Linked DNA regions of Homo sapiens. The protein of the gene in region 3 purifies or fractionates together with the protein of the main gene of each other region. This does not show direct contact. Each region holds a gene or a part of one and is shown on either strand. Other genes may lie near its edges.

Region 1 (6,484 bases), on a different chromosome or scaffold from region 3:
TTAAAAAGCCTGCATATCCAACTTTTTGAGATGTTGTCTTGCTCTGTCGCCAGGCTGGGGTGCAGTGGCACGATCTCGGCTCACTGCAACCTCTGCCTCCCAGGTTCAAGTGATTCTCCTGCCTCAGCCTCCCGAATAGCTGGGACTACAGGCAGGCGACACGACGCCCAGCTAATTTTTTTCTTTTAGTAGAGACAAGGTTTCACCATGTTGGCCAGGGTGGTCTCCATATCTTGACCTCGTGATCCGCCTGCCTCGGCCTCCCAACAGACTTTAAATTCGAGCTTCAGAAAGTTTGCCATTTACCCAGGATCCTAACTTGTAATGACTTAAACAGCAAAGAAGGCTCTTGCCCCTCAGCCCACCCAAGTGTATACCAAAGTCAAGTGACTTAACTTTGAGCACATTACCAATCTCAAAATTAAATCCCTAAACATTTTCACCAGTTTTAAGCGTACCCACACATCACTAGAGAATTTCATGACAAAACACCAAGTATGCTACCATGCAACGAAACCTTTATTAACATTTTGAACAGGTTCAGCTATTACTGAAACTTGTAATTTCTAAACTTAAGTTGGGGCAAATGGCTATAGTGCAGAGTAATGCCATCACTGGGCACTGCGAATGCCATGACTGAAGAATTAACAGCCACCCCTCAGGCGCAGGACCAGGTGCAGGGTCGACTCTTTCTGGATGTTGTAGTCAGAAAGAGTGCGGCCATCTTCCAGCTGCTTGCCTGCAAAGATGAGCCTCTGCTGGTCGGGGGGGATGCCTTCTTTATCTTGGATCTTGGCCTTCACATTTTCGATGGTGTCACTGGGCTCCACCTCCAGAGTGATGGTCTTGCCGGTCAGGGTCTTCACGAAGATCTGCATACCACCTCTCAGACGCAGGACCAGGTGCAGGGTCGACTCCTTCTGGATGTTGTAGTCAGAAAGAGTGCGGCCATCTTCCAGCTGCTTGCCTGCAAAGATGAGCCTCTGCTGGTCGGGAGGGATGCCTTCTTTATCCTGGATCTTGGCCTTCACATTTTCGATGGTGTCACTGGGCTCCACTTCCAGGGTGATGGTCTTGCCGGTCAGGGTCTTCACGAAGATCTGCATACCACCTCTCAGACGCAGGACCAGGTGCAGGGTCGACTCCTTCTGGATGTTGTAGTCAGAAAGAGTACGGCCATCTTCCAGCTGCTTGCCTGCAAAGATGAGCCTCTGCTGGTCGGGGGGAATGCCTTCCTTATCCTGGATCTTGGCCTTCACATTTTCGATGGTGTCACTGGGCTCCACCTCAAGGGTGATGGTCTTGCCGGTAAGGGTTTTCACGAAGATCTGCATTTTGACCTAGTTTAAAAGTAAAACATAAGCGTGTCACCTCAGGATCATTGTATTTCTTGCTTTTACACCTAATATTCTTCAAAATTAGCAACTATTCCTTCAAAATGCCTTAAATACGTTAATATTCCGCAAGCCTCCCCTCAATTTTACAAGGCTAAGTCACTTAATACGAAATTCGTCATTCAAGGTTTCAACGTCAACAGCGGAAAATCCAGAGCGCTCTCTTACCAAGCGTCCACAGCTTTCCCCACTAACTGTTCCGGATATTCAAACTCCCCCGACCGAACTCCAATCTGCCTCAAACCTAAGCACGGTGTTAGGCAAACTGAAAACAAAACCAAACCCACAAGACTCGCGAAATAAAAATCCCATTGAAACACAAGAAGGGGCACCTTTCTCACACTGGGATTCCAAAGTAAAGGCTTCCAGAAACCACACAAACTACCTCTTTTCCGCCTTCCCCGCGAAGTAAACTCGACAGAATCGCCGATCGGTTAGGCGTCCGTTAGTTTCCGTCAACGCGCGCGCGCGCCAACCGCCCTCGCCCCCCTCAGGTCAACAAGGCCCACTGTCCCGGAAAGGCCCAGCGCCGCGTCACCTCGCCCTCCCCTCCCCCACGCCCTCCCCTCAGCGGCCCACCCAACCCCAAGAAGCCTCCACCTTGACCTCACCCATTCCCCCCTCTCACACCCCCCCAAGGTCGTTACGGCTGCGGGCCAGTACCTGTTAGCGGATACCAGGATCCTGCCAATCACCAACCACGTCCACCCACAGGGACACAAACAAGCTCACCCAACAAAGCCAACCGCCCCTAAATGCTCCGGGCTGGCGGAGCGCAAATTTATGCAACGAGTGTTGCGTCACTTATCACCCCTCACGTAGACGCCGTCTCCGTGCGCCGCTGAAAGTAGTTCGCCGCGCCCAACCTCCCGAGAGGCAGTTTAGGCTTTTCAACTGAGCCCCAAATTCCTCATAGCCGTAAGAAAGGCTCCTAAAAAATTATTTCCCTTCTCCTCTATGCGCTTCTCTTCCTTCTTTAGGAAAATATAAGAAAATTATCAGGCGGATGAATTTGAGTTGAAGAAACCTTCCTCGAAAGCTCTGGAAACTTCCTTGCAGCGCCGGCACTGATTGGTTAGGCCTGCGAAGGCGAGGTCGGCGCTGATTGGTGGGGGACGCGGTGGCTCTGTTGTTGCTGGGCTCCACCTGGGGTGGCTTAGCGCCGAGGTTGCTAAGTAACTGAGCGCGCGTGCGCCGCACAGGCGCGCCGTCCTGAAAGAGGGTATTTCCGGCGGGAGAAGGAGGGGGGGTCTTTCCTTTTTTTTCTTGAGACGGAGTTTCGCTCTTGTTTCCCAGGCTGGAGTGCAATGGCGCGATCTCGGCTCATCGCAACCTCCGCCTCCCGGGTTCAAGCGATTCTCCTGCCTCAGCCTCCCAAGTAGCTGGGATTACAGGCATGCGCCACCACGTCCGGCTAATTTTTTGTATTTTTAGTAGAGACGGGGGTTTCACCATGTTTGTCAGGCTGGTCTCGAACTCCTGACCTCAGGTAATCCACCCGCCTCGGCCTGCCAAAGTGGGCCGCCGCGCCTCAGAAGCGGGACGGCGTGGCACCCGATATCGAGACACCTGATGGTGATTGTGAAGCACAATTCCCTCTCCCATGTTTTAAAAACGCGCGCCCCTGGCCGGGCGCGGAGGCTCACGCCTGTAATCCCAGCACTTTGGGAGGCCGAGGCGGGTGGATCATGAGGTCAGGGGTTCAAGACCAGCCTGGCCAAGGTGGTGAAACCCCGTCTCTACTAAAAATACAAAAAAATTAGCCGGGCGTGGTGGCGGGCGCCTGTAATCCCAGCTACTTGGGAGGCTGAGGCAGATAATTGCTTGAACCTAGGAGGCAGAGATTGCAGTGGGCCGAGAATGTGCCACTGCATTCCAGTCTGGCGACAGAGTGAGACTCTGTCTCAACAAACAGACAAACAAAAAACACGAGCCCCTCATACACTGGCCAGTTGTTTTTGCTTTTTTGTGACAAAGTCTGGCTGTGTCCCCAGGCTGGTGTGCAGTGGTGTGATCACCGTTCACTGCAGCCTTGACCTCCAGGGCTCAAGTTATCCTGCCACCTCAGCCTCCCAAGTGGCTGGGACCGTGGACCACGCCTGGCTTTTTAATTTTGTATTTATTTTTTGAGACGGAGTCTCACTCTGTCACCCAGGCTGAAGGCCAGTGGCGTGATGTGGCTCACTGCAACCTCCACCTCCCTGGTTCAAGCGATTCTCCTGCCTCAGCTTCCTGAGTAGCTGGGATTACAGGTGCGTGTCACCATGCCTGGCTAATTTTTGTATTTTTTAGTACAGATGGGGTTTCACCACGTTGGTCAGGCTGGTCTCGAACTCCTGACCTCAGGTGATCTGCCTGCCTCGGCCTCCCAAAGTGCTGGGATTACAGATGTGAGCCACTGTTCCTGGTCTAATTTTTTTTTGTTGTTAGATCAGAGTCTTGCTATGTTACCCAGGCTGTTACTGAACTCTTGGGCTCAGGAGATCCGCCTGCCTCGGGCTCCCAAAGTGCTAGGATTACAGGCATGAACCACCGTGCCTGGCGGACTAGCCGCTTTTTATTTTTCTTCGTGGTTATTGCAGGGTTGTGGAGCTTTAAATCATGCTTCTGTAGTCAGAGTGCTCTTAGTTGCATTGTCTTAATCCTCATCACGGCCCGAGAACAGTCTGTAAATCGGGAGTTCAGAGTGGGACCCTCTGCGGGGACCGGAAACCTGTTGCTGAAGCCGCTCACCACCAGGCCCAGAGAGGCGAGGCTGGAGCCCATGGTGACAGTGGCCGGGCTTCGCTCTGGCTCCAGCAATACCTGCAAATCCAGTTCTTCCCAGCTGTTTCTCCAAACTGGTAGGAAAAAAAAAAGTGCAGATTAGGGAGCCGAAACCCCACTTCAAAAACGGGAATTCACCTACAAGAAAGTAGCTGATCCTGCTCCCATTGACGTGCTTGTTGTGCAAGGGTGAGGTTAACCAGCTAGGACCAAGCAACGGGTTTCCCTACACCCTGGGTGTGGCCACTCGTCCTGCAAGGAGATAACCCAAGGAAGGTGAGTAAGGCAGATGTGTTTGGATCCTGGTGCCTGGCACAGTCACGGGGGTGGGGTGGAAGTAAACATGAAATTGGCTGTTTTTCACGTGATACCAACCTTCATAATGTAAGAAGTAGTCTAGAAATGTGTGTATTAATACAATTAAGTAAACATCTCTTAGAAAGGTCGCTAATTACTAAATTTCAACATACCTGAGCATAACGTTGAGAAGCTATGTCGACAAATGAGCTGGTATATGAGTTAACACCTAGACAGCTTTCAGTTAAATTAACTAAAACCGGGATCTACTGTCTACTGATGTGAATAAGCAGGAGATAGAAATAAACAGTTTAAGATAATTTTGGAAGTGATTTTGAACGACTTGGGAGGTAGTTTATAAAACGTTTATTTTATTATATAAAGTATGGATTTTCGTTTTTGTTAGCCTAACAGTGATTCTGAATTTGTTTCACCAACCAGCAGCTCCTCCTGAATCATACATGTTGATCGCAGATTGAGCTAGAAGGCAGATCTCATGACTGGTATAATGACTTCACTGGGAAGTTCTAGCAGTTGCCAGAACTGTAAGTTAGTTATACAGGCTCCTGGTTCAATGTTTTCCCGAAGTAGGTCATTTGGTAACCTAAGATTAGGAATTTGGTAATCTGGCACAATACTTGGCACTGTGCTCAATAAATGTTTGTTCAGTGACTAAAATGCAATCTTCTCTTTTGTTCAACTGGAGAAAAGAAACTTTGTGACAGCCTTAAAACACAAAGCAAAAACACAGTAGAGTACTGTATTTCATCTCCATAGGCAAATGCTATTTGCCTTGGCAGTTCCTTCAAAAGAAACAAAGGGGGATTGATTCTGAGATTCTAAGTGATTTTACTTGGCTAGATGCCTTTTAATAAAAATCTGTGAGAAAACTATAGTTCCAATTAAAAGTTCACAGTTGTTTTCTTGACATTATTTGGTGATATTTAAAGTGTGGAATTAGTCTCTGATTTGTCAATTCCTTTATATTTCACATTTGGCTATTTATTTCAATACAATTACATAATGAACTCCTAATTTATTACAAGCAAGTTAGAAACTTTGATATTGAATGCCCAAAGGAACACAGAGCAAAATCTGTACTGTTTTCATGTTAGGCCTCAAAAGTACAGAAATCTATCCATTAAAAAATAGCTAATTTGGGCAGATTGCAGTGGCTCACGCCTGTAATCCCAGCACTTTGGGAGGGTGAGGCAGATGGATCTCTTGAGCCCAGGAGTTCAAGACCAGCCTGGCCAACATGGCAAAACCTCATCTCTACTAAAAATACAAAAATTAGCCGGGTGTGGTGACGCACACCTGTGTTCCCAACTATTTGGGAGGCTGAGGCATGAGAATCCCTTGAACCCAGGAGGTGGAGGTTGCAGTGAGCTGAGATCACGCCACTGCGCTCCAGCCTGGGCAACAGAGTGAGACTCCATCTCAAATACAAACATACAAAAAATAGCTACTTTAAATGTTTTTAACATTTTTATTTATTTATTTATTATCTATTTTAGAGTATCTATTGCCCAGGCTGGAGTGCAGTGGTGCAATCATAGCTTACTTCAGCCTCCAACTCCTGGGCTCAAGCGATCCTCCTGTGTCAGCCTTCCAAGTAGGTGGGATTACACACACAAGTTGCTCTGCCTGGCTACAATATTTTTATCATGAAATATTACATAAATACATGAAAGATGGAGGTAATATAGCAAATACCATATAATCCCTGATTTGCTTAAGCACTTAAAAACCTTTATTTTTGGCCGGGCACAGTGGCTCAGCCTGTAATCTCAGCACTTTGGGAGGCCAGATCACCTGAGGACAGGAGGTGGATCACCTGAGGTCAGGGGTTCGAAACCAGCCTGGCCAACATGGCGAAACCCTGTCTCTACTAAAATACAAAATTAGCCAGGCATGGTGGTGCATGCCTGTAATCCCAGCTACTTGGGAAGCTGTGATAGGAGAATCGCTTGAACCCGGGAGGCGGAGGTTGCAGTGAGCCAAGATCGTGTCATTGCACTCCAGCC
Region 2 (7,035 bases), on a different chromosome or scaffold from region 3:
GCTTTTTAGAAACACTGATTATGCATCTATGTTAAAAAGTTAGTAGTGCTTTTCTGATACCTTAATATATTTTGCCCTGAAATTATATTAATTTTCTAGTGCCCTCTGGATTTGACAGTTGAATGGTTTGGCTCAAGGTGTCACAAAGTCTGATCCCTACCTCTAATTTAGTAAAACTTTTTTTGTGTCTCCTAGGCCAGAAAATCATACTTTAAGTTCTATAAATACTTTTATGATTTTTTTTTTTTTTAAGACAGGATCTCACTGTGTCATCCAGGCTGGAGTGCAGTGATGTGATCACGGCTCACTGCAGTTTCAACCTCCTGGGCTCAAGTGGATCCTCCCACCTCAGCCTCCTGAGCACCTGGGACAACAGGCTTGCACCACCCTGCCTGGCTAATTTTTGTGGGTTTTTTGGTAGAGACAGTGTCTCACCATGTTGCCAAGGCTGGTCTCCAACTCCTGGGCTCAAGCAGTCCTCCCACTTTGGCCTCCCAAAGTGCTGGGATTACAGGCGTGAACCACCACACCCAGTGAGGATAATTATTTTTATTGCCTGTAAGTTTAATATTCTAAGTAGAACAATACTTTTTTTCACTTTTTTCCTCCTTTTAAAAATTGAGATATAATTTAGTGAAACTGTATATCAGTTCTCATGTGTAGAATGCAGTGAGTTTGACAATTGTATACACCTGCATAGTTCACGTTTCTATCAAGATAGAGAACATTTCCATCATGTCAGAAACTCCATTTGTGTGCTTTATCAGTCATTCCTTTCCCAACCCTGCCAGTCTCTGGTTAACCACTCTTCTGATTCCTGTCCCATAGGTGGTTTTTTCCTGTTCCAGACATTCATATAAACATAATCATACAGTAGTATTCATGTTTAAAACATAAATATTTTCTATTCATTTATATATCAGTCTAAGTGTTTTCATAGCTAATTTGAAAATTTGTAAGAATATCTCATAACAGTAACATACTGCAGTGCTAGTCTTATTATTTAGAGAAATGTAAGCCACTGACTCTACTTTAAGGAAACAACCTATAAGAGTGCAGATTGCCTTCAGCTAACTGTGGTACTACTCTTATTAGGTGTTTGTATGCTATTTTGATAAATATCTTTCCAAAATTTTCAAGAAGCCAGCGAAACAGATTGAAGAAATGTCTTCTACATATATGGTTTGGCTTTAATAGCTCATCAGAAACAGGATAGTGTTATATTTGAATCTTTTAAAATAAAGTTCAGATAGTTCAACAATGACTAAAAAAAAAAAATGGCCAAAAAATGTGAAAAGACTCAGCCTCATTAATAATGATGAAAAGTACAGGCTGGGCGTGGTGGCTCATGCCTGTAATCCTAGCACTTTGGGAGGCTGAGGCGGGCGGATCATGAGGTCAGGAATTCGAGACCAGCCTGACCAACATGATGGAACCCCATCTCTACTAAAAATACAAAAATTAACTGGACGTGGTGGTGTGCGCCTGTAATCCCAGCTACTTGGGAGGCTGCGGCAGGAGAATCGCTTGAACCTGGGAGATGGAGGTTATAGTGAGCTGAGATCAGGCCTCTGCACTCCAGCCTGGGTGACAGAGCAAGACTCTGTCTCAAAAAAAAAAAAAAAAATACTAACTAAAACATTATGTCTCATCTATCAGATCAGAATATTGATCTGATGTTGACAAGGAGAGGATGTTGGAACTCATATACTAATATTGAGAATTTAAATTGTTATGTCACTTCATGGGATGCAGATACCAAATTTTTATGTGACCATTTCTTTAGATAGGGCTATCAATAGACTCTTCTACAAGGATAGGAATGTTCTACATCCTGCACCATGCAGTATGGTAGCTGCTGACTACATCAGGCTATTGAGCACTTGAAATGTGGCTATTACGGCTGAGGAACTGAATTTTATTGTAATTAATTTAAATAGTCATACGGGATGGCTCACACCTATAATCCCAGCACTCTGGGAGGCTGAGGCAGGCAGATCACCTAAGGTCAGGAGTTCGACCCGAGACCAGCCTGGCCAACATAGTGAAACCCCATCTCTACCAAAAATTAAAAAATTAGCCAGGCCTGGTGGCGGGCTCCTGTAATCGCAACTACTCAGGAGGATGAGGCAGGAGAATTGCTTGAACCCAGGAGGTCGAGGTTGCAGTGAGCCGAGATTGGGCCATTGCACTCCAGCCTGGGAGACAAGAGCAAAACTCCGTCTCAGAAAATAAATAAATAGTCACATGGGCCAGGCATAGTGGCTCATTCCTATAATCCCAGCACTTGGGAGGCTGAGGCTGGAGGATCACTTGAGCCCAGGAGTTTGAGACCAGCCTGGGCAACATAGTGAGACCCTGTCTTTCCAAAAAAAAAAAAATTTTTTTTTAATTAAAATTTTTTAAAAAGCCTTTAAAAATAAAAATAATCACGTGTGGCACAAGCCTGTAGCCCCACCACTCAGGAGGCTGAGGTGGGAGGATCCCTGGAGCCTGGGAAGTCAAGGCTGCAGTGAGCCATGATCACGCCACTGCACCCCAGCCTGTGCAACAGAGTGAGACCTTGTCTCAAAATGAATAAATAAATAATTTTAAAATCGTCACATGTGGCTAGTAAGTACCATATTGGACATGACAGCATTAACGCTGATTCTCTTGTAGCCATTTATTTCAAGGAAATTATTAGAAATATACACAAATGTATATACATAGATGTGTTGCAGCATCATTCATAATTTTGGAAAGCTAGACAATGTTAAACAGGGTATTTGTAGTATAGTAAATTTATTTGGTCTTTGTCCCTGGTTCCTGTTACAGAGCCACTAGAACCCTTGGAATTTTCTGATAGTGTAGTGTATTTTTTTGTTATTCTTAATGTACCCCTTTTGATAACACCTGAGTTCATCCTAATGAGATAACTTTTAGGATCTGGCCTATCTATAGCCTAAGGAAGGATGGGGCCAGTCACCAAAAAGACTAAGTGATTAGAGTTTTAGAGGGTTGGAACTTTTGGCACCACCTACCAAAATCCAGGAAAGGAGGAGGGCAAGTGCTGGAGATTAAGCTCCATTAAAGCTTTTTTCTTCTTGTGTTTTGAGCCAAGTCTCGCTCTGTTGCCCAGGCTGGAGTGCAGAGGTGCGATCATAGTTCACTGGAGGCTTCAACCTCCTGGGCTCAAGCAATCCTCCTACATCAATGTCCCAAGTGGCTGGGACCACAGGCGCCTTCCACCACACCTTGCTAAATTTTTTTGTGTTTGAAATGAAGTCTTACTATGTTGCCCAGGCTGGTCTCGAACTCCTGGACTCAAGCAATATTCCCATCTCAGCTTCCCACAGTGCTAGGATTACAGGTGTGAGCTGCTGCGCCTGGCCTATAAAAACTCTTGAACTAGAAATCTGATGAGCTTCCAGGTTGATGAGCACATGGAAGTGTTAAGAGGGTAGCACCCAGAGAGGGCGTGGCAGCTCTGCACCCCTTCTCCCTCTACCTTTCCCTGTGTGTCTCTTCACCTGGCTGTTCTATATCATTCATAATGTCCTTTGTAATAAACTACTAAGTGTAAGTAAAGTGTTTCCCAGAGTTCTGTGAGCCATTCTAGCAAATTATTGAACCCACAGAGAGGGTGGTAAGAACCCTGTGCTAACCATTCAGTCGGAATCATAGGTCACAACCTGGGACTTGTGATTAGTGTCTGAAGTGGGGCCAGGCTTATGAGACTAAACTCTTAACCTGTGGGATCAGACACTGTCTACCTGGAGATAGTGACAGAACTGAATTGAATTATAGGACACTCCGTTGGTGTCCATTGGAGAATTGTTTAGTGTGGAAAACACTCTCATCTGGTGTCAGACCTATTGGGAGGGTATAGTAGGAGAGAAAAATGTGTTCTTCCCAGAGTATTACTTAAATTTTGTTGTTATATTTATGTAGTATACAATGCAGTTGTTAAAGGTAAATCTTGGCCGGGTGCAGTGGCTCATGCCTATAATCCCAGCACTTTGGGAGGCCAAGGTGGGCAGACCACTCAAGACCAGGAATTCAAGACCAGCCTGGCCAACATGGTGAAACCCCATCTCTACTAAAAATACAAAAATTAGCCAGGTATGGCGGTGCACACCTATAGTCCCAGCTACTTAGAAGGCTGAGGCACGAGAATTGCTTGAACCTAGGAGGCGGAGGTTGCAGAGAGCCGAGATCACGCCACTGCACTCCAGCCTGGGTGACAGAATGAGACTCTGTCTCAATAAATAAATAAATAATTTAAAAAATTTTTTTAAAAAGATGAATCGTAGGTATTGACCTGGGAAGCTGCCTGTAATATAATGTCAAATTAATTAATCAGGTTATACAACAGTGATGATTTCTTTTAAGGCTATGTGAAAATATGTTTATACATACAAATTTGAAGGATATACACCAAAGTATAAGCAGTAAGTAACTTTGAGAGGTATGATTATTAGGGAATTTTAATTTATATGTAATGCAATTTTGTAATATTTGCTTTTTTTTTCAGTAAGCCTGTATTACATTATTCCATTTTAAGAATATAAATAAATAAAAATTGATTACTTTACAACCAAACTGTGTGCCCTACCACAAAAGCACATGAAGCTGACCCCTGATGATTTGGGAAAGAAGTGCTATTCCGTACAGGGTCTATGTAGTATTAAAGGTTTCTTGTTGGACACAACCAAATAATAGTAGCCAAAGTCTGTTAATCAAGCTAACTTCACTTGTCCTGTGGCTGGGAAGATAATTCACGCTCAAGTGTAGTGTCACTTCTCAGCAGGACTCATAAATCAAGAATAATTGAGGAGGAAAGCAGTTAAGATTTGGTAAAAACAGGAAAAGCTCTCAGAGAGTATAGTGTATTCGTGTGTTTATTTCAGCAGTAAATCTTAACTATTTGTGAAAGCTTAAATGTAGATATAACTACCCACAGGAATGGAATTTTAGCTAACATTTGAGATGTACTAGGTATGTGAAGCAAATAACTGGTTCTGAGAGGCTTGGCTAAGGTGAAGGACAAATGTAGCAGCAGAAGAGAATTGCAATAATAACATTATGATACAAAAATTCTATCTTAGTGTGTTGGAGCTGCTATAACAAAATACCTTAGACTGGATAACTTATAAATAATAGAAATTTATTGCTCATAATTCTGGAGGCTGAGAAGTCCAAGATCAAGGTGCCAGCAATTTTAGTGTCTGGTGAGGGCCTCTTCCTTACAGATGGCACCATTTGTGTCCCTACATGGCAGCAGGGGCAGGGCAGCTCCCTTCAACCTCTTTTATTAGGACACTAATCCATTCATGAGGTTGGAACCCTTATGACTTAATCACATCCCAAAAGGACGCACCTCTTAATACCAACACAATGGGGATTATTTCAACATGAATTTTGGAGGGACACATTCAGACCATAGCAAGTGTTTATAGTATTAGGACCTATGGCACATACTGCAGAATGCTAGTATTGATTCCATAAGAAAATCGCCTTTTATGGACTGCTTGTCACAGTGCAGTTTCTTAGGTCTCATGTGTAAATTTCCTAGGTAATTCATATGCACATGCTGAGGCTTGAGGACCACTGTCACAGGTTTTGCACAATCTTCCTTCATTAAATAGCTGTTGAATGAATAGCATCTTTTTCTCCCCCATGAGAGCCAATAATTGGCCTTATAAGTTACAGAAATTTTTTTCTCACATTTATTCAAGTAATATTTACATTTCTTCCACCCACTAGACATTGTTTGAGGCCCTGAGGGATACAGTGGTGAACAAGACAGGGTTTCTGTTCTCTCATTGGAGAATTAGGACAAAATGTTAACATGAAGGATGGGTTGGGTTGGAAGGATGGTGCTATGGTTTGAATGTTTTCCTCCAAAATTCATGTTGAACTTAATCCTCAATGTGTAGTATTAAGAGGTGGAGCCTTTAGAAGGTGATTAGAAGAATTAGTATCCTTATAAAGTATACCAATAAAAGACTTGAGGGAACCTGTTGGGCCCTTCTACTCCCCTTCCACAAAGTGAGGATGCAGAAAGAAGGCACCATATTGAAGCAAAGAACAAGCCCCTTACCAGACGCGAAATCTGCTGGTGCCTTGATCTTGGAATTTCCAGCCCCTAGAGCTGTGCAAAATAAATTTCTATTATTTATAAATTACTGAGTCTGTTATTTTGTTATAGCAACCTGACTAAGACAGGTGGAGAGGACTGCTTTAGATTGGCTGGTCAGGAAAGCCTCTCTGGAGAGGTGGCCTCTCAACAGAGACTTAGGGGAGGGTGGCACTGGGAGCAGCCAAATGTGTGACCGTCTGAGAGGGAAGCATTGCAGACAAAGAGAGCAGTTGAATAAAGCCCTAAAGTAACAACAAGTTTGGTGTTTTGGCATGTTCAAGGAATGGAAGAGCCGATGGCTGAAGCATGATGATTAAGGAAGAGAGTGGGCTGATAGTAGGCAAGGGTCTGATTATGGAATAGTTCCTAAGCCGTAGTAAAGAACTTGAAGTTTTTTCCAAGTGCAGAAGGAAACAGATGGATAATTTTAAGCCAGGGAGAGACGGAAGTTATTTACATTTTAATAAGAGAATTCAGTTCTTATACAGAGAATGGAGGGGTATGAGGATGGAGGAGGGACATGAATAGAACATTTGAGCCCAATTAGGCTCTAATGCAGTAGCCCAGTGAAGATGATAGTAGCTTGAACTGTGGATCTGAAGAGAAGTGTATGATTTTGGGATATATTTCAGAGGTAAAGCAGACCACACATTGCAGTGGATTCGATTGGCGGGATGGAGTGAGACGTTAGAATGATTCCTTGTCTTCAGCTACTGGATGGATGGTGTGGCCTTTATTAATATGAAGAAGATGAAGGAACTTTGAACTTATCCAGGTTCTGGTGATTTAATTCTTTCCTGCAAACAAACATTTTTTATTTGTAAGCCAAAATGCAGATTTAGTCATTTCAATGGGTTTGCTCCCTTTCACTAGTGGTTTGCAAATGGTATTCATTTACATGTACACATAAG
Region 3 (7,792 bases):
CACGAGGAATCTGAGGTGTCTCAGAACATGGTTTGAATGGAATAACAAGTGAAAGTTTAAGTCCCACTTCCTTCTCAGACTCCATAGTCAACTTCATTCTGCTTTTTGTGCTACAGAGAGGAGGAAGCACTAAACTTGAAGTTGGAAAATATGAACTCTGACCACCACTGCTCATTTAGCTATGGAACCTTGTCATTTCTGGGCCTGTCTCCTCATCTATAAAAAAGCCATACTTGGCTGGGCATGGTGGCTCACGCCTATAATCCTAGCATTTTGGGAGTCCAAGGCGGGTGGACTGCCTGAGCTCAGGAGTTTGAGACCAGCCTGGGCAACATGGTAAGACCCCGTCTCTAATAAAAATACAAAAAATTAGCTGGGCGTGGTAGCACTTGCCTGTAGTCCCAGCTACTCAGGAAGCTGAGGCAGAAGATTCACTTGAACCTGGGAGGTGGAGGGTACAGTGAGTCTGGATCGCGCCACTGTACTCCAGCATGGGCAACAGAGCAAGACTCTTCCTCCCCACCCCCTACAAAAAAATCAAAAAACCATATTGACCTCCCAGCTCCAAGGCTCAAAGGCACTACATGCCTTCCTACCCTAGGGCCTTTTTATGCTGTTTCCTCTGCCTGGAATGCTCTGTGAGCTTTTTTTGCCAGGCTAACTTTTACTTATCTCCAGGGGTCAGCATAAACTTGCATTTTTAAGAAAAGTATTCCCTTCAAAAAAAAAAAAAGTAGAGGATGGGCATGGTGGTTCATGCCTGTAATCCCAGCACTTTGGGAGGTTGAGACAGGAGGATGGCTTGAAACCACCGTGGGCAACATAGTGAGACCCTGTCTCTACCAAAACAGAAAAAAAAGTAGAGAAAACCCTCACCCCTGGTGCACTCTTACAGCACTTATCTCAATTGTTTACCTTAACTATTATAGCATTTATTGCAATTGTTACAATTATTTATTGTCCATCTCTAGGATTATTAAGCACCACAAAGCCAAGAACTATGTCACCACTGTACTCAGCATTTGGCTAAGTATATGACACAGAAGAATCCAACAAATATTCTTTGAATGAAAGAAAGAATGCATAAACTAATGCATCTAGAGGCTTTATGCCTCTAGACTATTGTACTGTGAAACCTTTCACAATTTTCTAAGAAACAGGGTTCAAGACAGGCAACCTATATTACACAGCTGTTAGAAAAAGTTACTGGAAATCGGCCGGGTGCGGTGGCTCACGCCTGTAATCCCAGCACTTTGGGAGGCCGAAGCGGGCGGATCACAAGGTCAGGAGTTCAAGACCAGCCTGGCCAATATGGTGAAACCCCATCTCTACTAAATATACCAAAAAAATTAGCCGGGCGTGGTGGCGGGCCCCTGTTGTCCCAGCTACTCGGGAGGCTGAGGTAGGAGAATCGCTTGAACCCGGGAGGCAGAGGTTGCAATGAGCCAAGATTGTGCCACTGCACCCCAGCCTGGGCGACAGAGCAAGACTCCATCTAAGAAAAAAAAAAAAAAGTTACTGGAAATCATTCGAGTTGAAGGACTCTGTAAGCTTAAAAAAAATCTTTTTTAAGAGACAAGGTTTTGTTTTTAAGAGATGAAGTCTCGCTATATTGCCCAAGCTGGTCTCAAACTCCTGGACTCAAGCGATCCTCCTGCCCTGCCCTCCCAAAGTGCTGGGATTACAGGCATGAGCCACCACGCCCAGCCTAAAAAAATTTGTTTTAGGCATTTCCACCCCTAGCTCTCTCCAGAAGTCTGTTATCACCAGTGAAGAGAAAATCCCATGCTCCCTTGCTGAGGAAGTGACCCACTGGTAGCCCAGTCCTTGCATTCAAGATGAAGGAAGTGACTGTCCACAGACGGAAAGCCAGGAAGCAGGGGGCAGATAGCCAGCCCCCCTCCACCTCAATACCCTCTTGCCGCCTCTCCAAAGCTTCTGGACGCTGACCCTGGTGGACCCAGAGGTGGGCCACCCACACAGGTGGCTGGGAAACATAGGAGACAGAAGGTTCCTACTGCTGGGGGAAAAGATGGGGAAGGCAGGAAGCTGCAGGGTGGTGTGTGAGGTGGCGGGGAGGTGACTGCAGGTGCAACTAACCCAACTCTGAAGCTACCCTTCACCCTTAGACAACTCTTCCTTCCAGGAGGTGTTTGGCCGAATCCCTCTAGTCTTTAGTCTAGAGAGGCCAAGGGAGCTTCCACAGGAGGACTCAGAACCCCAGGTGGCCTACTTTCGCCACCTGTAGCAGAGATCTTTGGGCCCCAAAAAGAATGGTCCGATCTCTCCTTACCCTTAGTCCTGTCCTAAACCTCAAGGGGCTCCATACTCCCTTATTTTCTGCAAAGAGCTCCCAGCCCCGGGGGACTCCCAGACACCAAGATGCCCGCGAGAAGCCTTGGGTCTTGGCAGGGAAGTCACATCCTCCATTTCCCTCAGAAAACCCAGAACCCGGGGTAACTCTCCTAATTGTCCTGAACCCTAGAGGATCCTGTACTCCTCAAATTCCACAGAGCTTCCACTATAAGAGAACCCCATGCTTTTCAACTTCCTTAAAAAGGGTTAATTTGGGGGTCTGCGGCCGCCAGGTCCCTCCAAAAAGCTGGATTCCTGGCAGACCCAGAATCTCTTCCTCCCCGGGACCTCAACTCGCGGGAAGCCTCCCAACCCGCCTGCCCCTCGGAGCCCTCTGTCTCCAGGATGCCCTGCCTCCCCATTCCCGGAGTCCCACCCTCCAAATGCCTGGGGAGCGCTGTGCCCACCCCGCCTCCCAGCTTTTCTGAGGAGCTCGGACCCACGAGGACCCAACCAGCCCGAAACCCCCGAGAGACAGCCGGTTTCCCTCAGGCGCCATGGAACCGGACTTCGGAGATAACAGCGGGACAGGGCGGAGCAGCCCTTCCTTACCCGCCAGCGCGGACATGGTCCCGGGAGCGCGGAAATGGGGAGGAGGAGGCGGGGGACACAGCAGCTCCCCTCAGTTCCCTACAACTCCCCTCAGCTCCTGCCGCCGCCGCCTCAGGCGCGGGAAGACCACAGCCCCAGGCGCGAACGGGATGCACCGCCTACGGCGCCCTGGGAGGACCAAACCACACCTGGCACAGGGGACTGCCCGCCGACGCCCCGCCCCGCCGCTCTCAGGCCTCGCTCCCGAGACGCGGCCCCGCCCCCTGGCTCTGGCTCGGGCTCTGCAGCGGCCCTGGCGCCCCCTAGTGCGAGCGGCGTCCCCTCGAGGTGCTCCCGCCGGTAAGGTTGATTCTGCGGGGGCCGGAAGTCTCAACACGGATGACAGTCCGCACCCATCTAGTCGCCCTCATTTACAGATAGGGAAAGTTAAGGATCAGAGGCTAAGTTCGACTACATTGAAATGGCTTCGCTCATTAGGAGGAGAGCCGGGATGGGAGCCCAGGCCTGCTAACTGCCAGTTCAGAGCTCTTTCCAGTAGTGTTTGGAATCAGGAATATTACAATGGAGGAGCCAGGTCTATCCCACAAACAGCTTTGAGGATGGACTTTTCTTAGAAGCTTCTAGCTCAGAGAAACCACTTCTCTGCGCCACTATGAGTAAGCTGACAGTAAATAATCTCTAAGTCAAAGACAGTTGGAGGCGACCAACCAGCATTCCAGGAGCAGATCCTCAGCCAGGCCAATTAGGTTTAGCGCAGGACGCTGGAGCTTGTGCGCCGCATTGGAAGACGAGCACTCCCCTGCAGGAACATGGGCCTACCATTCCCAGGTCTTCCAACCTTTCAAAACATGCCAAAAATCCAGATATTTAGGTGAAATTTGCCACTTTTAAAAAATGTTGATAGCATCAAAAAGTTCTTAAAATGCCATGTAGACCAAATGAAACACACCTGGCCACTAGATTTGCCCTGTGGGCTGCCAGTTTACAATCTTCTATGAGGAGGAGGGATTACAGGACTAAGAGTTAGGACAGCTGACTGGGTTATGGCAGCTGCTAGCTGGCTGAGTAGCTTTGAGAACCACTTCCGCTCATTAGGTTTGGAAGGAGATTGGGGTCCTCTGTGTGATTAAGATATTAATACATCATCAGCCAGGCCAGCTGGTCCCTGATGACCCACCCTCCCATCAGATTCTCTCACGCTGGGTCTTTCACAATTGTCATTTCCTTACATCAGATTTAGATCACAGGAAACATGTCCAAATGACCAGAAAGAGGATGGAGCCCAGGGAAATGGATTCTGTCCCCTCCACCCCCACCCCTGACCAAAGACAAAGTTCAACCCAGCTGCCTCTGGTCCCAGCAGTTGGGTAAGCAAAGGCAAAGGCAAAGACAAAGGCGAGCACAATTCTCTTCCTTCCTGCTCTAATTCAAACCGGATGCCGGTCAGATTTTTCTCTTCTGGGTGTGGCAGGTGGCTCACGATGTCCTGAGTGTGCACAAAGTGCTGGGGAGGAGGGCTCTGTCCCATTTCCGTTAATTCCTGGGAACTCTTTTCAGTACTCAGTTTTGTAGTTTCTGAGGAAATCATTATAGTAAACACAAGATTGTGTATTGAATTAAAGTGACAGGAATCCAGAGACTCTCCTGACAAGCTGCCTCATGGCTAGCAAACAGGGGACAGGGACTTTCCCCATCCTTCCTACAGAAAGATGTAACACTGTATTTTCCCAGGCAACAAAGCACTGGCATCCTGGGAACCAAAACCTCCTGGGTGTCTTCCCTCTCCCTCCGTTCCACACCAAGGCACCCAGGTCTATCTCTTCTCCCTCCTCATTCTCTCTCACATTCCACTTCCTCCTACCTCCAGCCTCATGGTCTTCACCAGCAGGGAGCTGGGGAATAGCCAAGTCCCCCAAGTTCCTCCCAGGGAAGTTCAGGCGACTCTGAGAAACACAAGTTGAAAATGTAATGGAAGGGAATAGCTTTCTATAGAAATGCTATAGCCAAGAGATATATTTTTAATATGGACCCAAAGAACATTCCAGAAATCACTTGTGAACTCAAGGGGGACTTCTGGAGGGTAGAGAAAGCCTGGGCAGGGAGTAGACCAACTGAGTTTCAATAGCACCCAGGTTACCTGTCCACAGTTTGTTTCACTGGCCATAGCTTGGTCAGTCCCTAGGGCCAGATCCTGCCAGCCGCCTCACAGTCAACTCTCTGAGCCTAGGATCCTGAAACCTGGACCTTGAAAAACAACTCAAGGTTCTGCCCTCTTGAAGGTACTGGTCCACTGGTACCCAACCAGACTTGCCCAGTGTCACTTCCACTTGCTTCAAACTGAGCCAGTCTCTGCCCTCCCTGAATCATCCTACCCAAAACTGACTGTGTTAATCTTCCAAAAGTATGTTTCTGGACCTGTCATCTCTCTGTTCAAAACCCTTCAACAGCACCCCACTGCCTACAAAATAAAAGCCAAACCAGTCCTCATGAGCTGACTACATCTCACCCTGCGGACTTGTCTCCCTATTCCCTTCACTCCAGGACTCTGCTTTTTCCTGAGCACATCCTGCCTTGCGCCACCTGCCATTCCTACAACAACCAGCTCTCCAGGTTCTCTGTAATTTTGTGCCCCACTCTGCCCAGAGTGCAGTCTTGTTTCTCAACTCTAAATGATATAGTGGCATCTGTAACATCACAAAGTAGGACTACCAGACATTAAGTGCCTCCAGGTAAGACGCACCAAGTATATACTATCACCTATGACGTAGTCTTACAAAACAAAAATAATAAGCTTGAATCTGGTCAAGCTTCTAGATCTAACAACCAACTTACAGGAAATACATGGAGAAGAGGAGCTTAATAACATTTCCATGATGCAAATAGCAAAAATGATGCTGTGGGAAATGCAACAGGACAAATAACCTAGTTTCTTTAACAGATAAACTGCAGAGTAGAAAAAATTTCATAGACAGGCCAGGCAAGGTGGCTCACCCCTGTAATCCTAGCACTTTGGGAGGCTGAGGCGGGTGGATCATGAGGTCAGGAGCTTGAGACCATCCTGGCTGACATGGTGAAACCCCGTCTGTACTAAAAATACAAAAAAAATTAGCCGGGCGTGGTGGCGGGCACCTGTAGTCTCAGCTACTTGGGAGGCTGAGGCAGGAGAATTGTGTGAACCCAGGAGGTGGAGCTTGCAGTTAGCCGAGATCCCGCCACTGCACTTCAGCCTGGGCAACAGAGCGAGACTCTGTCACACAAACACACACACAAAAAAACAAAAAATTAGCCAGGCATGATGGCGGGCGCCTGTAGTCCCAGCTACCAAGGAGGCTGAGGCATGAGAATCACTTGAACCCGGGAGACGGGGGCTGTAGTGAGCTGGGATCGCATCACTGCACTCCAGTCTGGGCGGCAAGTGAAACTCTGTCTCAAAAAAAAAAAAAAAAAAAATTCAGAGACAAATAATAGCAATGTATGAAACTGATTTGGATCTCAATTGAAACTACACAAGTTATGAGACAACTAGGGAAATCTGAACAATGTGATTGGATATGATGATTTTAAGAAATTTTTTAAAGGTATTTTGCTTTTTTTTTTTTTTTGAGATGGAGTCTTGCTCTGTCGCCCCGACTGGAGTGCACTGGTGCGATCTCGGCTCACTGCAACCTCTGCCTCCCGGGTTCAAGCGATTCTCCTGCCTCAGTCTCCCGAGTTGCTGAGACTACAGGCGCCTACCGCTACGCCTGGCTAATTTTTTGTATTTTAGTAGAGACGGGGTTTCACTATGTTGCCCAGGTTGGTCTCAAACTCCTGAGCTCTGGCAATCCGCCCGCCTCACCCTCCCAAAGTGCTAGGATCACAGGTGTGTGCCATCGTGCCCGGCATATTTTGCTTGTTTTTAAAATACTTGAGATGCATATCGAAATACTTAATAAATGACATGACTGGGGTTTGTTTCCGAATAGTTCAGACAGTGGGAGAGGAACAGCGTGCGGGAGGTATAGATGCAACAAGACTGATCTGAGTTGATAGTTACTGGAGTTGGGTTATGGCTACATGGAGGCTTTATTGTCCTGTTCTACTACTGTTTTTTTTTTTTTTTCCCCATCGAAAACAAAAACCTAAGGCCGGGCATGGTGGCTTAAACCTGTAATTCCAACACTTTGGGAGGCTGAGGTGGGAGAACCTACTGAGACCGGGAGTTCCAGGCTGCAGTAAGCTGTGATCACACCACTGCACTCTAGCCAGGGCACCCGAGTAAGACCCTGTTTCTAAAAGGGTCTGTTGCCCTGGCTGGAATGCACTAGCATGATCACAACTCACTGCAGCCTTGACCTCCCAGGCTCAGGTGATCTTCCCACCTCAGCCTCCCTCCCGGGTAGCTGGGACCACAAGCATGCACCACTGTGCCTGGCTAATATTTTTTATTTTTGTAGAGATGGAGTCTCCCTGTGTTGCCCAGGCTGGTCTCAAACTCTTGGCCTCAAGCGATCCTCCCACCTCAGCCTCACAAAGTGCTGGGGTTTGTAGGTGTAAGCCACCATGCCTGGCCTAAAATTAAAATCTTTCAAAAAAAAAAAAAAAACCTGGTCTTTTCTCATTGGGCTTATGAGCTCCTGAAGTTCCCTCACCTTTGCATTCCCCACTGTATCTTGGTACTATTCAATTTGATAACTGTTAGATCAAAATCTAAGAGGAAGAAAAAAAGCTCTTTTCAGAGGAATTACTTGTAGCTCTGGCATGTTGGGAAGGCTGAGGCTGGGCCAGATTTGTAACCTCAGCAACATCTTCCATCTCACACTACACCCTGCTACTAAGGAACCTTAGGGAGGGACACACCTTCTGCTCGAGAGAGAGGACTTGGCTGACAGCCCACCTGCCCTGT
Region 4 (7,000 bases), on a different chromosome or scaffold from region 3:
ATTTCTTTACTTTTAGAAAGGATAGAATCCTCTGCTCCTATATATTACAAATAGTAATAAAGCTAAGTAAAACACAACTCAAAAAAATACCCTCTTACCTTTGCCAAGACTAAAGACAAATGGTTCATTTCTATCATGACTGGAATCAAACTTCTTTCCATTTGACAATTTTCCTTTGTAATGGACATAAACTTTGTCTCCAATCATCGGCGTTTCCTCACCATTCCCCACTCTTTTGACAATCTAGAAAAGACAAACATTAAGAAAAAGGAGGTCAAACTTTTTACTTGTAATCAGAGAATAAAAAGGTCACACAGTCCATCCCAAGACATCCAGGCAGATATGCAAATATACTATTATCCATTCTTTCTAATGCCTCCCTTCATTCCTCACAATAACTCATTGTTAGAAAACTGTCCTTTACCAACTTGTCTTTTATGTTATATCTACTTTTATTGCTAATCGCACTATTTATTCCTTCAAAGAATTAACCAATAAATCCTGTTCATTGGTTTAATGCCCTATATTTTGACAGTAAACTCTTTTTTTTTTTTTTTTTTTTTTTTGAGACGGAGTCTTGCCCTGTCGCCCAGGCTGGAGTGCAATGGCACGATCTCGGCTCACTGCAACCTCTGCCTCCCAGGTTGAAGCAATTCTCCTGCCTCAGCCTCCCGAGTAGCTGGGATTACAGGCGTGCGCCTCCGTGCTCAGCTAATTTTTGTATTTTTAGTAGAGATGGGGTTTCACCATGTTGGCCAGGCTGGTCTCGAACTCCTGACCTCGTGATCCACCCGCCTCAGCCTCCCAAAGTGCTGGGATTACAAGCATGAGCCACCGCGCCCGACACTAAACTCTCTAACACAGGCTTGTGAGCTAGTCCATATACACACGGACTTAGACCAGAAAGAATGGTGGACTTTTAAAATATTCAAAAAGAAGCTTAAGCAAAGCTTCAAAGGTGTAATTTTATTTCCCTCCTTTGCTAAAAACATTAGCTCCTGACTAGATTCTGCTTGTTTATTTTCAGAAAGCCCAATTTCCTGGTAAAACAGGTTACATTTCCTATTATTTGAAACATAGTCTATCTGTAAAAAACATGAGTATCATTGCACTGCTTGATATGATACTGAATAACTTGTTTTCTAGTAAAGTATTTAACTACTGTAAAATCCAGTGTATTTATTTTGTTCTTGGCAGAGCAAGCTGCTAATGTATTTGGTCAGTTCTGGGAAAAGAAAATCAAACCCAGGTGTGTGATGGTGTAATTTGTTAATTTGTAATCTATGCCAAATTAATCATTTTTGGTAGATAACAGAGGATGGTAGCTAACATCTGATGAACATCTTTTTGGGGAAGGAGTTTGCTTTGAGTTTTATTTAAATAATTCGATTATTTGCTCCTAAATTCTTTTTTTACAAGTATACCGTCCACCTAACATAAATATCACATAAACACTGTGAACTTAAATTCCACAGCTTTCTTAACTCAAAAGCCCAAACATCTTTATTTTATTTTTTGAGACAGGGTCTTGCTCTTTTACCCAGGCTAGAGTGCATGCGGTGGTACAATCATAGCTCACTGTAGCCTCTATCACTCAGCTCAAGTGATCATCCCACCTCAGCCTCCCGAGTAGCAGAGACTACAGGCACATGCCACCACGCCTGGCAAATTTTTTTATTTTTAGTAGAGATGAGATCTTGCTACATTGCCCAGGCTGGTTTGGAACTCCTGAGTTCCAATGATTCTCCCGCCTCAGCCTCCTAAAGTGCTGAGATTACTGGTATAAGCTATCGCACCCAGCCCCAAATATTCTTTAAAGGCAAAGAAACACTACTGCCCTTCTAGGACTTCAAAAGAAAAAAAAAGTCTCAAAACATTAATCTAAAAGATATTACACAATATTCTACAAGTGCTCATGTTCACGAACTGCATGTGGTATTTGGGAGGCTATGCTCAACTGTAAGCCTCACGTGGAAGGAATCTGCATTTCTAGGACTATAAACAGTAACTGGGCATGTGGGATGAATGGCTACCAGAGAGTCAGAGAGCCATCCACACCAGCAAGTGGTACTATGGTATCACTTCAGGCTTCCCTAGCAAGATGAATTTGTACCTAAATCTAGAGTTGCCTTAAGAACACAATCTAGGTTCTATTCATTTTTAAAATATAAATCCATCTTTTATCTTCCTCAGATAGTTACTGAATTTCCAAACCAGCACTGGTTCTTTTTTTAAAAATACGTAATAGTTAATAAGATAGATTACTATAGGACAGGCACTATGCTAAGTGCTTCACCTAATCCTAATAACTCTATGAGGTTGATGGCATTATTATTCTAATTTTACAAACAGGAACTTAATCACAGAGAGGTTAACTAAATTGCCCTAGCTTGCACAGTTACTAGACCTATTTAAATCTTAACCAAAAGCCTCATGGTGAAATCCGAGGCTCTAGACAATGATAAATGATATAATTTAAAGGGCTTCAAATCTCAAATGTTTCTTAATAAGCCTAAAAATCTTGCAATTAGATTTACTCCCTAGAACAGAACAGGGTCTGAGGCAAGTTGGGGATCATGTTCTCTGGGCATGGGCACTCTGAAAAGATGAAAGGGTAAGTCGTAAACAGAGGCAGGGAGATGCTGAGGACAGCCTGCAAAGTCTCCACTGTTTCTAGAAGCTTCCTGGAATTTAGGATGAGTAACTATAGCTACAAGGTTGAGAAGCCTTCTAAAAAAAGACAATAGGATGTAAATCTATAGCATAAAGCCCTTATTCTATAGCTGCAAGTCCCCAAAATTTGACTTAGCACATAATAGCAATTCACATATATTCAGAAGAGATCCAGGCACAGAAGGCTTTCACATAAGCAAAGTTATACAAAACAAAAATTCTTACTTGCTACTGCTGGCACAAGAGATATTAAAACTCAGCATCCTGGTAATATTCAGAATGCATCAGATAATCTTTTCAGGAAAAACAAAACTTAACTATACAAAACTTACATGTGTTAACAATGGTGTAGGAGAAATAACTATTTAATGTGACTAAAGCCACTTAACCTTTCTCAGATTCAGTTTATTCACTTATAAGATGGAAGAATCAAGAGATGCTCTGATTGTCTCACCACATTGTTGTAAGAAACAAAACAAAAGAAATGCACGTGAAAATGATTAACTATAGAGTGAAGAAACACACACAGTCATGCATCGCTTAAGGACAGGGATATGTTCTGAGAAATGTGTTCTTAGATGATTTCATCCTTATGTGAACATCGCAGAGTGTACTTACACAAACCTAGATGGCCTGGCCTACTTGTACACACCCACGTTAGGTGGTTTGGCCTACTGCTCCAAGGCTACAAACCTGTACATTGTGTTACTGCACTGAATACTGCAGGCAATTGTAAAACAGTGGTATTTGTGTATCTAAGCATATCTCAACATAGAAAAAGGTACAGTAATAAAAGGTATACAAGAAAAAAAATGGTACACCTATACAGAACACTTACCATGAATGGAACTTGCAGGACTGGAAGTTGTTCTGGATGAGTCAGCGAGTGAGCAGTGAGTGAACATGAAGGCCTAGGATATTACCATACACTACCGTAGACTTTATAAACACTGGACACCTAGACTACATTTATTTTAAAATTTTTCTTCTTTCTTTAATAATAAATCAATCTTAGCTTACTATAACATTTTTACTGTGTAAACTTTTTTTTTAGCTTTGACTCTTGTAATGACACTTAGAACACAAACACTGTACAGCTGTACAAAAATATTTTCTTTCTTTATATCCTTATTCTATAAGCATTTTTCTGTTTTTTAAATTTTTTATTCTTTTACTTTTTAAACTTTTTTTTGTTTAAAACTAAGACACAAACACATACATAAACCTAGGCCTACAGAGGGTCAGGATCATCAGTATCACTGTCTTCCACCAACACATCTTGTCCCACTGGAAGGTCTTCAGGACAGTAACATGCATGGAGCTGCTGTCTCCTATAATAACAATGCCTTCTTCTTGAATACCTCCTGAGGGACCTGCCCAAGGCTGTTTTTTGTTTGTTCATTTGTTTTTGAGACAGGATCTCACTCTCACCCAGGCTAGAATGCAGTGGTATGATCATAGTTCACTGCAGCTTGGAACTCCCAGGCTTACATGATCCTCCTGCCTCAGTCTCCTGAGTAGTAGAAACTACAGGTACATGCCACTATGCCTGGCTAATTTTTTTAATTTTTTTTCTACAGATAGGGGTCTTACTATGTTGCCCAGGCTGGTCTTGAACTCCTGGCCTCAAGTGATCCTCTTGCTTTGGCCTCCCAGGGTGCTGGGATTACAGGCATGAGCCACTGCACTCAGCCAAGGGTGTTTTACAGTTAACTTTTTAAAAAATAAGAAGCACACTCTAAAATAATGATAGAAAGTATAGTAAACACATAAACCAGTAATATAAACATTTATTATCAAGTATTATGTACTATACATAACTGTGACTGCAGTGCAGTAGGTTTGTTTACACCCACATCACCACAAACACATAATACACTGTACTACCCATGCTACAACAGCTATGGCACCACTAGGCCATAGGAACTTTTCGGCCCCATTATAATCTTATGGGACCACTGCTGAAGGTGCAGTCTGTCACTGACTGAAATGTCATTATATGGTGAATGACTGTATAGTGCTTTAATAAGTAGGAAAGCTAATTCAAAAGTAAGATATATTCTAAGAGGAAATCGCAAAAGATATCTTCACTGTACACAGGAACAATATTTATATATAAAAATAAACCCCTTTGGGCCGGGCACGGTGGCTCATGCCTGTAATCCCAACACTTTGCGAGGCCAAGGCAGGCGGATCACCTGAGGTCAGGAGTTCAAGACCAGCCTGGCCAACATGGTGAAACCCTGTCTCTACAAAAATTAGCGAGGCATGGTAGCAGGCGCCTGTAATCCCAGCTACTCGGGAGGCTGAGGCAGAATTGCTTGAATCCAGGAGGCGGAGGTTGCAGTGAGCTGAGATCATACCACTGCACTCTAGCCCAGGCAACAGAGGGAGACTCTGTCTCAAAATAAAATAAAATAAAATAAAATAAAATAAAATAAAATAAAATAAAACCCCTTTGAATTTTTCAAGTTAGCTTTTCTTTCCTTAAAAAGTCTTCAAAATTGTCATTAGCTAGCTTTAGTGTACTAAAAGGATACATTAAAATAGTAACCTATTTGTATACTCTGAGAATAGGGAAATATAGCCCTTTAGAGTGAGATATAACTTGGACCTGAACCCCAGGTAAATCTGCATTACTAAGATATATGATATTAGGCAAGTTAATTTACCTAGCCCAGTCTCAATTTCAACATCTATAATCTGGGATTAAAAATTAAAATCTCTAGCTGGGCACAGTGGCTCGTGCCTATAATCCCAGCTACTCAGAAGGCTGAGGTGGGAGGATTGCTTGAGGCCAGGATTTCAAGACTTGCCTGAGCAACATAATGAGATGCCCTCTCTCAAAAATTTAATTAATTAATTTAAAAAGAAAATCCCAGCTACTCAGGAAGCTGAGATGGGAAGATCACTTGAACCCAGGAGCTCAAGACCAGCCTGGGCAACATAACGAGACTCAACTCTTAAAAAAAACCTTGAAGTTATGAAGACAAAATGAGAATCTAGCTCTAGTGTTTGGCACTTAGTAACCATCAATAAACATTATCCACCCCAGCCCCCCTCAGAAAGAGATGCTATAATCTTTCCAGACAGCAGGTTTCCTTGTATGTCACTCAGCTTTGTGGCCTCACCTTTAATACTCCCCTGTCTTTTTTGGAGGTAATATCCTCTCCCTGCTCAGCAACAGTGGCTGTGGGGCTTTCTTCATTGTTCTTGGCACCTTCATCAGTAGTCATTGTCTTTTAAGTAGAGAACCTGGTAAGAAGAAAAATATTTTAGCTGGGAAAAATATCACTTCTTTATGAATCTTGAATGTCCCTGGGAACTGAGCTCTACCTAACCTAAGATTTACTTAGGGCCAATAAGCTTAGATACTGAAAATGAAAACAAAGGCATTTGCTATGAGCATGTATTGATGTCATCAGGCATGTAAATAAAACATCATCCAATTCTTTAATTTCCCATCTAGCTCTGGTCTCAAAACAGAGAACAGTACAAGTCAAGTTGGGTAGTGATTACATTCCTTAACATAACATGGTGAGAAGCAGTCCCTTCACAACTTTGAAAACATCCTTTTTCTACAGCCATATTCTTGACAGAGGATTAAGACCTTATCAGTTCTTAATAAAAGAAGTGACAATATATCAATCACAGTGAGACACAGAACAGGATTTAGAATCCAACAGACCCAAGTCTGGGTCCTAGCTGCAGCTCTTGACATTTCCAGTTTCCTTAATCTTGCTGAGCCTTCATTTTTCATCTGCAAAATGGACACAGTACACTATTCATAGTTACAGTGAGATAACATTTCTTAAAAGATTAGCATAGATTGGTAACTTAAACATATTTAACCATTTATCATCATTATTGGGCCTTCTGTAGGGTCATTTTTCATCTCCTGCCCAAAATACCTACAGAATGTTCTTCCATGTGGCATTCAAGGCCCTTCACAATCTGGCCCTAATCTATCTTTGAGTTCTAGCTGCCATTATTTTATTTTACTTTCTTTCATGCAGCTCATGCTCCAGCCAAACTAGGCCAATTCCACCTCTACAACAAACCCAGTGCTTTCCCATAGTCATTCTTCTGGTCACTCCCTTTCTTGTTTCCAAAACATCCACCTCTCTCAAATCCTACTTCTGTCATACCAACCTTGACCCTCTATTTGTAGGCCATTTTGCCCTTTTACGTACTTCCTTAGCTCTTCTCTCGATTTGTTGTCTGTAAGAGATTCATAAGACTATGCGCCTGTTAGGTTTAAAAGATCCTTCAGAGCAAGGTCCATGCTTTGTTCATATTTAGATTCCCTAGAATGCCTCTACCTTTG

Evidence for each region.
Region 1: the proteins of LIMK2 (region 3) and UBB purify together in Homo sapiens (affinity purification with mass spectrometry; 2 studies listed by BioGRID and IntAct, with this or other methods). This does not show direct contact.
Region 2: the proteins of LIMK2 (region 3) and TTC1 purify together in Homo sapiens (affinity purification with mass spectrometry; 4 studies listed by BioGRID and IntAct, with this or other methods). This does not show direct contact.
Region 4: the proteins of LIMK2 (region 3) and FKBP5 purify together in Homo sapiens (affinity purification with mass spectrometry; 2 studies listed by BioGRID and IntAct, with this or other methods). This does not show direct contact.

Annotation. Positions count from the first base shown.
Region 1 is NC_000017.11:16,376,758-16,383,241, reverse strand, and holds UBB (polyubiquitin-B precursor), read right to left. Parts: upstream 2,152-6,484; 5' UTR 2,058-2,151; intron 1,953-2,057; exon of another isoform or gene 1,563-1,952; intron 1,341-1,562; 5' UTR 1,335-1,340; coding exon 645-1,334; 3' UTR 502-644; downstream 1-501.
Region 2 is NC_000005.10:160,012,133-160,019,167, forward strand, and holds part of TTC1 (tetratricopeptide repeat protein 1), read left to right. Parts: intron 1-2,526; exon of another isoform or gene 2,527-6,899; intron 6,900-7,035.
Region 3 is NC_000022.11:31,207,540-31,215,331, reverse strand, and holds the start of LIMK2 (LIM domain kinase 2), read right to left. Parts: upstream 3,035-7,792; 5' UTR 2,924-3,034; coding exon 2,908-2,923; intron 1-2,907. UniProt on the Homo sapiens protein: Serine/threonine-protein kinase that plays an essential role in the regulation of actin filament dynamics. Acts downstream of several Rho family GTPase signal transduction pathways.
Region 4 is NC_000006.12:35,636,916-35,643,915, forward strand, and holds part of FKBP5 (peptidyl-prolyl cis-trans isomerase FKBP5), read right to left. Parts: intron 5,929-7,000; 5' UTR 5,910-5,928; coding exon 5,805-5,909; intron 244-5,804; coding exon 99-243; intron 1-98. UniProt on the Homo sapiens protein: Immunophilin protein with PPIase and co-chaperone activities. Component of unligated steroid receptors heterocomplexes through interaction with heat-shock protein 90 (HSP90).